Homo sapiens: one gene and its partner. The protein of the gene in region 1 interacts with the protein of each later gene in a biochemical or structural test. Each region holds a gene or a part of one and is shown on either strand. Other genes may lie near its edges.

What was found. Proteins that work in one complex are often made in the same cells at the same time.
Region 2: the proteins of RHOBTB2 (region 1) and MSI2 form a complex in vitro, tested with the Homo sapiens proteins (one study listed by BioGRID).

What each region holds. Positions count from the first base shown.
Region 1 is NC_000008.11:23,002,531-23,009,551, reverse strand, and holds part of RHOBTB2 (rho-related BTB domain-containing protein 2), read right to left. Parts: intron 5,128-7,021; coding exon of another isoform or gene 5,118-5,127; coding exon 4,926-5,117; intron 4,181-4,925; coding exon 4,077-4,180; intron 3,593-4,076; coding exon 3,407-3,592; intron 2,825-3,406; coding exon 1,806-2,824; intron 1,560-1,805; coding exon 1,441-1,559; intron 1-1,440. UniProt on the Homo sapiens protein: Regulator of cell proliferation and apoptosis. It likely functions as a substrate-adapter that recruits key substrates, e.g. MSI2, to CUL3-based ubiquitin ligase complexes for degradation. Required for MSI2 ubiquitination and degradation.
Region 2 is NC_000017.11:57,251,981-57,259,532, reverse strand, and holds the start of MSI2 (RNA-binding protein Musashi homolog 2), read right to left. Parts: upstream 3,011-7,552; 5' UTR 2,791-3,010; coding exon 2,729-2,790; intron 2,592-2,728; exon of another isoform or gene 2,537-2,591; intron 2,515-2,536; exon of another isoform or gene 2,486-2,514; coding exon of another isoform or gene 2,436-2,485; coding exon 2,395-2,435; intron 2,068-2,394; coding exon 1,986-2,067; intron 1,264-1,985; coding exon 1,179-1,263; intron 1-1,178.

The DNA.
Region 1 (7,021 bases):
AAGCAGTTACAGAACAGTAGGGGAAACGGTGTGGACGTTCAGAACTCCACGCGCCTGCACAAAGTCGAACCTCGTTAACTACAAGGTTCGACGACACTCAGTGATGGGCAATTGAGGTCCAGGAGTTCAGAGCACACCAAGGGCTACTGCCCAGGCTACTCTGCTTGGAATGGAAAAGAGACCAAACCTAAGAGAATATTTCTAAGGACACATTGATAGGCTTCTTCCAACCCTAAGTTTCCAATCTAGGTGAGTGAGAAAGTGGTGGCATCGTGAGAGCTAGAGGGTCACTGATTAGAGAGGCAGGTGGTTCTATTAAGTATGCTTTTCCTTCCCTTCCTCCCTCCCTCCCTCCCTTCCTTCTTTTCTCTCTCTCTCTCTTTTTTTCTTTTTTTCTGTAGAGATGGTGTCTGTGTTTCCCAGGCAGGTCTCAAACTCCTGGGCTCAGGCAATCCTCCCACCTCAGCCCCTCAAAGTGCTGGGATTACAGGTGTAAGCCACCCCCTACACCTATTTTCTGTATTTTGTTGCTTTGACAACTAAAGCCTTGCTGGCCCTATAGGGACTGCCTCCCTCAGGGCTGGCCAAGTCCTAGGGATAGTGAAGGAGTTGCCTGCAAGTGTGCCTTTCATATGCAAACCAACCAATCCAGAGCCCACAGCCCACTACCTCCCCTATGGGCCCTCACACTCCAGGCCACTGTTCCCCTGCCCTAATCCCCCTAGAGCCAGGTGACAGACAACTAGAGACAGCATCCAGGCCCCAGAGCCGGCTAACATTATTCAAACAGCTAATCCTAAACCTGCTCAACCTGCCTCGCCCATTCCCTCCCACAGAAACCCTCTGCCTCCTGATTGACCCCAGAGCTTCCCCATGTGACCCCAGCCATGGTGCTGTGGCATGCCCCCTTTTCTTGGGATCTGTAACAAGTTGTCTTATCAATGACAGCCATCTTGCAATCTGTGGGCCTCTCTACACCTCAATAATAATAAAACCTATCTTTTAAAACAGTGATGCATTCAGTTGTTTCAAGTGTGTCAGGGAGGCAGTAAGGTACAAAGTAAAGAGCCAAGGAATGGAAGTCCTGAGTTCAAGTCCTAACTCTACTTCCAACTTCATACAAGTCACTTAACTTCTCAGGGGCTCCCTTTCCTAGATATACGGCAGGAGTGGCACATGTGTACGTTGCGTGTGAATTTAATGAGATAATGAACAGAAAGTGCTTTCTAAACTCTCAAGTTGAGGTGTCAGTGTAATTCCCTTTCCTGGTGTATTGTATAATCCTTAGCTCCAAGAACCACCTCATAAACCTCTCTTGGGCCCATCACCCTGTGGTTAGCACACAGTCAGTGAAGAAAGTACCCTGAGTGGCAGTGCCTCAGATGTAAAGGGTGCAAATGTCTCACTCCCTCCTTCCCCCCTTTGTGTCCTCAGCCTTACCTCCCGGGTGGAGCTCTCCACAAATGGCCCCCCAAACATGGCAGCCATCCAGTCACAGCTGGAAATCAACAGGGGCTTGTGGGCGCTGATGGTGCCATCATCCAGGATGAAGGTCACATCTGTCCAGAAGAAGCATCACAGGAGGACTGGTGAAAGAAGCTGGGAGAACAAGCCCCAAGGGGAGCCACGGAGCCTCCTCCTGAACCCAGAAGATTCGGGGCACGGAACAAACCCGCTCCCAGCTGGGGAAAACCAGGCTTCAAGAGCATGGCAGCCGCAGCTCCAGGACACCAGGAGCTGAGACAGACAGGCAATGCTAATAGCACCAATGCAGAACCCCCTTGCTTTCCAAGCCTGTTCCATACCTGAGAAGGTGCCTTTTGCCAAGCACTCCTTAACCCGGTTGGTCCGGCGGACGTGGAAGGCCTTGGTGATCTCCTGGTTCATGAAGGCCTCATTGTTGAGAATGTTGGCCACCATCATGCGCAGATCAAAGACCTCGAGCAGCTCAGCAATGTGGGCAATGTGCATGAGGTCACGCTCGTTCTCATCTAGCTCCCCCGTGTACAGGTACTTGAGGACAGCCCGGAAGGGCCCCGGCTGGATGGAACTGTCCATCTTCACCACCACCATCAGCCGGGATTTGTAGGTGAGAGGATCTTCTGCCATCTCTTCCTGGATGCTCACAAAAGCTCGGCTCCAGGAAGACAGCACACGACCCCTGCCCGGTAGGTACCCTGTTCCGTTGCCCCGTAAGATCCCGTCGCTGGTGGAAGCACGGAGGCCAGCAGGACCGGAGCCCCCAGCCTCATCCACGCTCTCGCACACGTCAAAGCTGGCTGCTCGGAGCAGGAAGTCTCGCCCATGGTGGTGGTGGTGATGGTGGTGGTGTTGATCAGAGTGGCCCTGGTGGTCCTCTGGGTGGGTGCCCCCTGGCTCCGAGGGGCCCCCCAGCTCCCCCTCACTCAGGTCCATGAGGAACAGGTCATAGAACTTGGAGGAAGAGGTGGAGAGGTAGATCTTGTGGGCAAAGATGCGCACCCGCTCCTGCAGCACCAGGATGACGTCCGCGCAGAGCGGGTCCTCCAGGAGGTGGGCGGGGCACTCCTCGCTGCTGGAGGGAGGGTCGGGCACCACGATGATCGGGGGCGGTGGCTTGGGGGGTAGGAAGGGTGCCTGCAGCAGAGGCCGCTGCACATTGCGGAGGTGGGACTTCCAGAACTGCAGGTGGCGGCGGGAGATGAGTGCAGCTCGGATGGCGTTGTCAAAGACGTCCTTGATGCCGAACTGGGCCACCACGCTGGTCTCATAGTAGGGGATGCCCAGCTCCTTGGCCACCTCCCGACCCTTCTCTGGGGGCAGGATTTCATTAGGTTTGATGGGCCTGGTAGGTTCAAGAAGGAAACCAAGCTTGTGTTGGTGGTGGAGGGAGGCTGCCTGTTCTTCCACAGGCTGGAGGGACTCTGCTCAGGATCTGGGTGCCAATCCCCACCCACTCCTGCCCTGCTCTGTCTGGCCAAATCCCATCAAGCTCCTTCAAGGTCCACTCCAAGCCCTTTTTCTTCCAGAAAGCTTTCCCTACTATGCCAGGCCCCAGTGACCTCCCCAGTACAAAGCCGTGACAGCACTGCCTCTCTGGCAATTAGCAGGCAATGCTTCACATGGGTATTTAACATGCTCACATATTTAGTTTATCCCTCAGCAAAATTATAGGACTTTTTCATGCAAATATCACCTCTTCCTCTCTATTTTTCTTCATGATGCTTTACATAGCACTGCCCACACCAGAGGTGTGCAACAGGTATATGAATGAATGAATGAATGAGCATGCTTGTTGACTCCCAATGCAAGCTTGCTCCAAATGGAGGGAGAGATATGAGGCTCAGTGGAATTCCCCCAGGGCTGAGCAGGGAGCCATGGTGAGGCACCCATCCATGTCTGTCTCCTTGGTACCAGCACCTCCTACCTAGCCAAGGGTCGCCTAGCCCTGTTGACAGCCTCCAGGTCAGCGTAGCGCAGGTCCAACTGGCAGCCCACCAAGATGACAGGTGCTCGGGGGCAGAAGTGCTTGATTTCTGGGTACCACATGGTCTTGACATGGTGGAGGGAATTGGGGTTGGCAATGGAGAAGCACAGAACCACCACATCAGATCTGCGGGTGGGAAAGTAAGGTTACGGGCAGAGAAACAAGTGGTAGCTTACCTGGTCCTGGAACATCTGCCCCACCCCAGCCCTGTACAGTCCCACACCTGGCTTAGGTATCTGCTCACGTGCTCTTGACACAAAACATATAATCACAATACCTCCAATTTATGTGCCACTTTAGAGCTCAAGACTTGTTTTGGCCTCACAGCTATTTTGTGAGTTAGAAATGGCTGTTTTCACCACTTCACAGCTGAGAAACATCATCTCAGAGCTACTAGGCACAGAGCTGGAACTCAATCCAGGCTTCCTGATCCCGGACCCAGGCTCCCTTCACTGCACCAGGCTGCCCCAGCCCCCATGAGGCTCTGCCAGAGCTGTTTTCTCCACTTCTTCTTGCCAGCTGAAATTTCACAGAGGTGCTTTGTTCCTGGGAAAAGCAGGGAAAAACCCACCCTGTTGGTTCTCTGCAGGCGGCTAGAGGCCTTCCCTACCTCCCATAAGCAAAGCGACGGTCTTTGTGGTGGTCTCCAAAGGTGTCCCAGAGGCGCAGAGAGACGCTGACATCATCTACCACGTCTCGGGAGCGTTCCAGCACCTGGGGACGGGGAGGAAGAGTGGGACTCGAAGGCAGCAGTTTTGGGGACCTCTGCGTGCCACCTCAGGATAAGCGCCGGCTGACACCTGGGGGCCCCAGACATCACTGGGCATGGAGGGACAAGGCTGGCATCGCCCACTGTGCACCCTGCACAACTTTCATCCACGTAAAATCTCTGTAGAATCTATAACAAGGGTGGCCTCCAAGCTGACCAGGAGTGGAAGAGACCCTAAGCAGGTGGAAGAGACACTAAGAGGGTAGCAGAGACCCTAAGGGGGTGGAAGAGACCCTAAGGGACTGCTATGGGTGTGGAAGGGGCCTCTTTGGGAGCTGACCCTTGTTCCTGGCTTTCCTTGCAAACTGCATGTTTGTGAGCCTCTGGTCTTTTGCTATCAGCTGCCAGCTTCTTTGCTCCTCTCAGCTTGTATCTCTTCCAAGCCCCAGCCCTCCAGTGCTCCCCATTACTTAAGGCTGTGACTACATACAATGCGGTACCCCAGACAAAGATGGAGTCCCAGGCACCAGCTCAGTCCCTGAAAACACAACCAGCCAGAGACACTTCCCTGGGGCAGACTTGGCTTAAACCTCTCTCCAGGGGCTCCTTCCTCTTCAGCTGCCCCCAACCCATCCTGTCCCACCCCTAGAGGGCTCCCGTGAGCTCTGGAGACACCAAGCTATGCCTCAGGAAGCCCCCAAGCCCAGACTCATGGCGTGGACCCCCAGCCAGGTAGTCCTGCAGCCTTACCTCCTGGCACACACGATATTGGTCGATGGCCCATACTGTGGGCACATGCGTGGCCAGCAGCTGGTACTGGGTGAGGGTGGCATTGCAAGCGCGGGCACAGATGAGCCTGGTCTTACCCACGGCGTTGTCCCCCACCACAACGCACTTGATGGTCTCTACGTTTGGCCTTTCATAATCCATGTCAGAATCCATTAAACGGGACCTGAGGGAGAGGAGGGAGGCGGTCAGGACGGCATGGCATGCCAGCTCGCCGTGGGCCAGGGCCAGCACCCGCAGCTCTCCTCAGCCAGGCTGCCCCCTCTGCAAGCCCCGGAGCTGACAGGAGGAGGAAGGAGTGGGCAACGTTCTGGGCAAGAGCTCTGCGAGGGTCCAAGGGGCCAGGAGCCCATTCAGGCTGAGAGGAGCAGTGTCACCAGATGGGCCACCTGTCCCCTTCCTGCTCCCACGATCCTCCAGCTGTGCGTCTGGATGAAGGAGACCTACGCGAGATCACCAGTGGAGCTTGCCGAGGCCCTGCCCTGTCCCCTCTCCAGAGAGGGCAGCTCACTCATCTGCTCTCCTCCTCCTTCCCCGGCAGAGCAGTGGCAGCAGAACAACAAACAGCTGAGAGAAGCAGAGTCGGCCACGTCCCCACCCCTTCCCAGCATGCCTGAGGGCAGGGCACTTTAAAATTTAATGGACTTGTCAGAACTGGGCAGCAGCTCTCCTGGCCTCCACTCTTTCCCTTGCCCTCTCTGGTGGTGGTGGATTTCCAAGCCCTAGCCTGCCTAAGTGCATGCTTCAACCCCAGACCCCAGTCCCCTTTATGGAGATGCAAGAGTTTTTCCTCCCAGCCTCTCTAGGATGGGGAGGTTCCTGGATGCACCTGACCAGCCCAGGGGCCTCCCTTTCTCTATTCGGGGTCTGTCCTGTTGCCCATGTGTCATGCTCAGCTACAGGTCCAGCTTTCAGATGCGGGTGAGGGGAACCACAGGCCTATGATGATACAGTCAGTGGCCAATGGGCCTCTACTTCCCCTACGGGGGGCTGTCCTCCCAGCACCCTGCCCCCAGCGTCAGAGAGTGAGATCCACCTCCACCCTCTTCTGCCCTTCCCATTCCTAGGGAGGATGATCCTCAGGCTGAAGATCCCAGGCAGCTGGCACTCCTAGGTGATGTTCACTAAACTGGCTACATGGGCGATGGGATTGCCAGAAAGCAAAAGATCAGAAATTTGAGCCTGAATTTCTGGGCAAATGCTTGCCTCAGTTGCCTTCGATGTTGAGCAGAGAGGAAGTGGCTTGTCCACCCCCAGAGAGGGATGGCTTGAATGAACAAACAGAAGGCACTTCTGTAGTCAGATGTCATGTTCGTGTTTAAAAATCTGTCGCCAGGAGGCCCTGGCCTCGGCATCCACCCTCCTGGGATTAGGGAGCAGGGGCAGGGCCAGCGTGATTAGGACGCTTGGTTTCGCCAGCGTCATCTGCCCGCCCCACTCACATTCCTGTGTGTATGAAAGTCGTCTGGGGGGGCTTTAGCAGCCCGGAGTCATCCCTCCTAGGCTAAGGAAGGCTGAGCTCTGAGTGCTGGAGGCTGCCCAGGCACCCTGGCTGCTGAGCCATCCAGCCCAGAGCCAGGCCACCAGCAACAACAGGGAGGCTCCATTCCTGCTGGGCTGTAACTGGATGCCAGCATGCAGGGATGCAGACCGAAATATCCAAGTAACGATAGCAACTGGGATCCGTGCGAGTGGATGCATCTCAGCAACCTAAGCAAAAAGTGCAGCAAGGACTTCTCAATGAGACAACCTCCTCCGCCTTTTTGGAATGTTACAGGATCTGGACCCTTCAACGAGGTCTCCATGCAGTGCCCTCATGGTCTCCAGGGCAACTGTACCACCCCTTCTCTCTCCTAACCCTCCCTCAGCAGACAACCGTTTTTTGTTTTTGTATTTTTTTGAGACGGAGTTTTGCGCTTGACACCCAGGCTGGAGTGCAGTGGCATGATCTCGGCTCACTGCAGCCTCTGCCTCCTGGGTTCAAGTGATTCTCCTGCCTCAGCCTCCCAGGTAGCTGGGATTACAGGTGTGTGCCACTATGCCGGCTAATTTTGTATTTT
Region 2 (7,552 bases), on another chromosome or scaffold:
TCAGAGAAAGAGGGTGAATTTGCAAAATCAATTCAAGTGCACCGAAGGTTGCCAGGTTTCTTTATTTGCTTTCCTTCTCTTCCATTCAATGTTAAAGCCAAAAGGGGCTTGAAAGATCACCTTGGTCCACTTATTTTACAGAAGAGGAAATTGAGACCCAGAGGTAGGGAATGTCTTGCTCACTTTCATAAGAGGCGGATGGAAGTAGAGCCCCATTTCTGGCCTTGTCCCACTACCCCATCACAGAGGAGTGAAGTTCCATGCAACCCAGCACTACAGCCCAATGTCATCTTAAGGCCTCTGTTTGGGGCAGATATATATTAATAAAAACCGTGGGGAAACTCTGGTAGACATAAAGGGAAGGGAGGAGAGGCAGGAAGCCCACACAGGGGCTAAATAAAACACTGCACACTCCCCCTCCCATTAAATGTATTGTTATATACAGACACTCTTTCTTCCCTTCCCCTTCTGACCTCTGCCTGGAGACTCTTCCCCCTTCTACTCTGGATTTTTAAAACTTGTGATGTATAAAAGTACCCATACTCAAATGAAAGGATCTGAGAAAGAAAAGGAAGGAAAAAAAAATCACTTTGAAACCCCCAGGCCTTATCAGCCTTAGATTTCATGCCATCTGGAGTCACCCCAGTGGATGCCCAGCTCAGCTCCGCCAGCGTCCCCTTCCCTTCCCAAAGCACATTCCAAATCCCAAGTGCCCCAAGAGAAACCTGTTGCCTGGACCTGTAATTAGCGCCCTCTCCCCTCCTTCCCACTGCTGTCCCCCTTGGCCACAAAGCAGGCTGTGCCTTCTCAAAGCTGATCCCCACAGCCACAGTTGGTAACGCGTGCTGTGCTTGGCTGACAAAGAAAAGTTGCATTTGCTCTCTGGTGGAGTTTCTCTGCACAGTCCCCAGGCCGGGAAGGCAGACTCTCCAGGAGCCGAACCCTCTCCTCCCCAAGCCTAACCTTGGCAGCCTCTGAAGCTGCAATGGGACAGGCTCTAAAAAGAAAACCCCAAAGCCAGCCACAGCAGCAAACTTTTGAGCCAACTCGCTAGCTCAGTTTAAAACTACCCAGTTCTAGCACAGAAGCAAAAGAAGGCACTGTCCCTTTAAATGGGGCTGTCAATGCCCAGATCGTTCCTGAAAAGGGGCGAACAACAACAACAAAAAGCAACCTACCGTCTTGGAATCTAACTCATGGTGGGGCTGACCTAATACTTTATCTACACTTGCTGGGTCTGCGAACGTGACGAAACCGAAGCCTCTGAAAGGAGACAAAGAGGGAGAAAAACAAACAAGAAAATGTGACACCATTGAAAGCAACCAGGAGTGAGACCTAAGGCTGAATGAGGAGCAAAAGTTGCCCCCCACGCACCCCCACCTCCCACTCCCCTCCTCCAATTCCCCTCCTGCCTACAGCCCTCCACCTCGCAAGAAAAAACATCAAGGTTAACGGGGGAAGTGGAACGGGGGCAGGGAGGGTGGAGGTAACTTGGAAAATGCTGGTGCCTCCACTCTTTGGCCACCTCAGTTTCCTCTCCTCCTCCCCTTCCCTTTCTTAACGCTTTGTTTTATTCCGAAGAAAGCCCGGCACTTAGAAGAGATTTACCACCATCTTTCTAAGAGGGATCTTAAGAGTTTGGGGAGCTGGGAGTGTGGGGGAAACACACATTAAGATCAAAAGAAAAAAAAAAACTATGCGAAAGTAAATGAAGCTGAATGTCATTTTAAACAGAGAAAAAGAAGCGACGGGAAAATGACTTAAAAGCAGAGAGATGGGTATCTCTGTATCCAGAGTTCAGCTCCAATTAACAATAACCTCTGGGGTTACTAGGGGGCGGTGGGGGTGGTATAGAGCGCCGTTCGAGATCAGCCACGCGCCTGAGCCCCATTCTAATCCGCTTAGCTACTTCCGAAGACACCTCCAAAAATAAAACTTAAACTTTGTTCTAAAATAAAGACAAAATCCAGAAGGGAATGGTTTACCTGGAGCGTTTCGTAGTGGGATCTCTCATGACCATACATTCTCTAATTTCTCCAAATTTGCTAAAATAGTCTCTAAGGCTATCTGTAGAGAGAGAAAGAGAGAGATGGGGGGGGGAGAGAAGGTGTGGAAAAAAAAAGCAATGCAAATTTTGATCAAGGACAAAATCCAAAAGTAGTTTTCTGTTGTTATTCTGTTTTGTTTTTGCATTTTTTGCACACGCGGGGGAAATTCGGCAACAGAGGTCGCATAGAGGGCTCAGAAAGGATTTGCTATTTAAAAAAAATAACCTTGCACAGGAGAAGTGGGGAGCCAATGGCGGGGGGGGGGGGGCTCCTACACCGGGATAACAAAGAGCAATAAAGAAGCCAAGAAGGGGGGGACCCAGGCGTCCCCCCCTCCCTCCCTTACCTGGTGAGGTCTGCCAGCTCAGTCCACCGATAAACATTTTACTAGAGGGAGAAAACATAACAGAAGTGAGCACCGATGTCAGATCGGCCATTTTGACGTGTAACTTACAAAAGCTAAAAGGAAAGCGGGGGGGAGCGAGCGAGCGAGAGCCGGGAGGTGGGGTGGGGGAGAAGGTGACGGCGAAATGCAATCCAAAGGTGTGTAACTTCCACGGGGGGGGCGCGCGGGAGAGGCGGGGGGGCGCGGGAGATGCCCGGCTCCGCGCACCGCCGTCCCCGCCGCTGCAAGGAGAGCGAGCCCAAGGCGGCGCGGTGGGCAGCGGCTGGAAACTTACCCGGGGTCGTGCTGGGAGTCGTTGGCGCTGCCCGAGGTGCCTTGGCTCCCATTTGCCTCCATATCTGAGCCCCCCCGCCCCCCCACCCCCAAAAAACCAAGCCCCACAGCGATCGGAGCGGAGCGGCGGCCGGCTCCGAGCCCCGAGATCTCCGCTCCCTCCTCCCCCTCCTCCTCCCCCCCGCCCGGGCTCCTCCGAATCTCTCTGCGAGCGGCGGAGCCGGGGCAGCGGCGAGAGCCGTCACACGTGGGCTCGGCTTAGCTCAGCCCCGCTGCCTCGCACACCCCCCCGTCCCCGCCCCCCCGGCCCATCCCCACCTCTCCCCCTCCTCCTCCCCACCCCCATCTCCTCCTCCTCCTCCCCCTCCTCCCCGGCGCACGTGGGGCGGAGTTCTAGAACGTCGTGTAACCAATGCCGGTGACGTCACGCACCCCCGTGCGGCCCCCGCCTGCCCGCGCGCGCACACTCGGCCCCCCACGGCCGGACCCACAAGGGTGGCGCGCGAACCCCGCGGGCGGAGGGGACCCCGCCTCCGGGCCGGCAGGGCGCAGGGCGAGGGGGAGCGCACCCCGACTTCCCTGGATCACATGGGCTGCGGGGGGCGGGTGGATCGGGGGAGGGGAGGCGCGGGGAGCTTGCTGCGGCTCCTCACCCGGACCTGGGAGAAGACGCCCCCCACCCTCTCTAGTTCGCCCTCTCCATTCAAGTTTGCCGGCCCCTGCCGCCGAGATCCGGGAATGGCACCAGCCGCCCGCCCTCCGCTGTGCCCTGTTTCCAGCCACCGCTCAGAAATTTAGGTCAAGGACGTCGGGAGCAAACCCACACCCTGGCGCTCCTTTGGCGGCCCCCGAGACGCCCCAGGATCGGGGGGCTTCAGGATGGCGGAGACCCTCCTGCACAAACACCAGCCACAAGTTTTATTTTCCTTTTGCGCTGGAAGTTCTCTCTGGCTCTGGCTCCACACCGGCACGTCTTGCGCGGTTCCCCGCCCTTCCCCAGTAGAGGTACCAATCCGTGCCCGGGAAAGGTTATTTTGGAACTTTGAGAAACTGACGCGATTCCAGTGGCGAGAAAGTGCCGAAGAAAGGGTTTCCGCGTTAATCATACAGTGTTTTAAAAATGTAATAAGATAGGTTATAGGAGTCAAGGTCACATGATTGAGGTTCAAAGCAAATGTTTGTATATAACGAGAAGTACTTTTGGGGTGTCTCTGGGATGGATGGGAAGGGTGGTTATTTCAGGAAACCCCTGTGTAATCCGTTCGTTATATATTTTATTTCTCACCCAGCCTTTGTATGCCAGGATAGTAAAGTGCATGATACTGAAATAGCCCAAGACCCCTCACGACCTGCAGAGGTAGCTAGGGTGGCAGAAGGCTTCAGAATCACTCCCACCTTAGCAGCAGTAGTATTGTGCAGCACGGGTTCTGGCATACAGTAGGTGCTTAATAAATGCGGTTTCATACCTTCATGCACTGAAAACTCCAAAAAGACAATGTCTGTAGCCTTCCAAAGGCATCGCATGAAAGTTTCTCCGGCAGATTCCAGACTGCCCAAATTCGGGCTGGTTTCAATTTATGGGGCATTTGAAACAATACGGATACAATTACCCATATTGTTTTAAATCTGTATCGTTTTAAATTGTTGCAATAAACTGAGTTAATATGGCATGAGGGGCAACATAAAGTTGTGGTTCATCAAATACTGAGATTAATGTTAAGCATGAATTGATGCCCAATTAACACTTTTCCATTAATTTTCATAGGATTAGGAGACAAAGGAATACACTCAACACCAAAACTGAACCAAATCCACTGTGGGCTTTGGAAAAATGGAATATTGGGAAAATCTCAACACCAGCCATAGCCTTGAGTGACCAGACCCTCAGTCTCCCTGTTCCCTAAATTGCAGTAATTCCTCCTTGACAGGATTGATGTGGTGAAGGTGAGAGGCTGAAGTGAACCAATGTTGTAAAAGTTCCTTTTTCACTGTAAACCTGAGTCGTGTTTATTATCAATCACTACTCAATATAATCATATTGAGAAGGTGCTCTAAGGCTTTAAACCACAAACCCAAACATTTCCTGTCACTCCAAGCTCCTTCCCAAATCATCTGGGGTCTCATGTGTTGAACAGCCAGTTGTTACAATGATTGTTTATTATGATTGATTATTCTAAACAAAATGCAGACAACAGAGCTAATTGTATTGTGTTTGGGATTTTTACAGTAGAACCACAGGCCATCCTAGGTAGAAAGGCCTTTCCTAATCTAATCCCCTCATTATACATCAGCGTCTCAGAGGTGCCAAACTCACCAGGCTACACCCCACCCCCACCCTCTGACCATCAGTCCAATGCCGTGTGGCCTCTGCTGCCTGCGTGTTTATTCTGTCCCTCACAAGGCGAGAGTTGGGGGCCCTTCCTGTCTGGTATAGACCTCCACAAGCTGACACTTATAGAACTGATTTAAAATCCAGAGAGGGGCTAGAGCTGCGGTTACAAAGTCAGGGCTTAGAAAGAACTGGATTTTAAGTCTCCATTACTACATTGTTTTTACTCATTTATTTTTAATTTATATACGGTAATATTTACTCTTTTTGGTCTGTAATCCTATGAGTTTTGACATATGTATAGAGTCATGTAACCACCACCATAATCAAGATGCAGAACAGTTTCATTGTCCAAAAAAATTCCCTCTTGCTGCCCCTTTGCTCTACATTATTTGTAATAGCTTATTATTATTATTATTATTATTATTATTATTATTTTATGCATTTTTTTTCTCCAGCTCACTCAATGTAGCCCCTGCATCAGGAGAATTCAAGCAGCACAATATCAGTCCTCAACCCTCTGAAAGTCTCAACAGCCCAAGACAATGTTGGACACTTCCTTCTTCAAACTCAATCTTCCAGGATGGGTTTAAACACATGGTGATGCCACTCAAATTGAAATCTCCAGCCCCACCCTTCCTGAAGAGCTCCAGGCTCTGGTCAATTTCCTATTCAACATCTCCACTTAGCCTTTCTAAAGGAAGCCCAAGTTCAAATCCATCTTTCTTGCTGCTGCATCCCAGATCTCCCACCTGAGGCCCTGCAACAGCTTACAAAACAGTCTTCCCACATACACCCTTACTCCACTTACATGCCTGGAAATCTTTCCCAGACCTCTCTGACAGGGTCGAATGCCCTTTGATATGCAGTTACCTTACCAGAACGTCCTCTGTGTACCTTACCCTGTATGATCATTTGCTTTATTGCCCATCTCCTCTAAGCCAGAAGCTCCCGTGCCTTTCTGCTCTCCATGTACTAGCACAGTGCCTGCTGGCGCACGGTTGACGCTCAATAAATAATGATTGACTGAATGAGTGAGTGGATGAATGAATGAATGATGGCCAACATTTAATTTCATTCTAGGATTCTTTTTGTATTCATGTTCATAAGTCAAATTGGCTGCAGTTTTTCCTTTTCTTACTGCCTTTGTCTGGTTATACTGGTCTCATAAAATGAACCGGTAAATGTTCCTTCTTTTTTCATTTTCTGGAACAGTGTGTGTAAGATTGGAATTATGTGTTCCTTGAATGTTTGGTAGTTTTGCAGGTAAATTGTCTGGGTCTGGGATAGACATTTCGTGGGTTGATTTTTAACTACTGATTCCATTTCTTTAATGCTCGTAGATCTCTTCAGGTTTTCTGTTTTCTTCTTGAATCTATTTTTATACACTATGTTTTTCAAGGAAATTATCCATACCATCTAGGTTTTCAAATGTGTTGACAAAATGCTGTTCATAGTTATCTCTTAATGTATTTTAATCTCTGCTCTATCTATCCATAATGTTTTTTTTTCATTCTAAATATCATTTTATATGTATTTTTTCTTATCTGGATCAGCTGTGCCAGAGATCTTTTTTTTTTACTAATGTTTTCTTTCTACTTTCTATTAGTGTTTCCAAAGAACCAGACTTTAGTTTCAATATTGTTTCTTTTTCTGTTCCAGTAAGTTTTGTTCTTATATATTATTATATATTATATTGTTATATATGGCACAATAGAAAATATATACTATTATATAGTTTGTGAGAATATAATATGTAATGTAATATTAATATATATCATATAGTATTCCCTTCTGCTTCTGCTCTTTTTGGATTTATTCTGTTGCTCTTTTTTTTTTTTTTTGAATTGTTGCCTTAGGTAATTAATTTTTAGCCATCTGTTTTCTGATTTTAACATTTAAGACTACAGATTTCACTTTAAGTACCACTCAAGCTATATTCCACAAGATATATAGACTTTTTATCACCAATGAGGTAAAAAAAGTTTAGATTTTAGGCTGGACACAATGGCTTATGCCTGTAATCCCAGCACTTTGGGAGGCCAAGGTGGGAGGATCACTTGAGCCCAGGAGTTTGAGACCAGCCTGGGCAACATAGTGAGGCCCCATCTCTGCAAAAGAAAACTTTTCTAGAAACTAGCCAGGTGTGCTAACATGCACCTATAGGCCCAGCTACTCAGGAGACTGAGGTGGGAGGATCACTTGAGCCTGGGAAGTTGAGACTGTAGCGAGCCATGATCATGTCACTACTCCAGCCTGGGTGACAGAGCGAGATCCTGTTTAAAAAAAAAAAAAAATTAGATTTCAGATACGATTTCTTGTTTGACTAGTGAATTAATACAGGTGTATTTGAGGGGTATTTGAGGTTATTCTTTAGTTACTAACGTCTAACTTAACTGAATTAAGGTCAAAGAATGTGATCTATATGAAGCAGATTCTTTGTTATTTATTGAAACTTGCTTTGGTGCAGTCAATTTTTATAAATATTTCATGTAG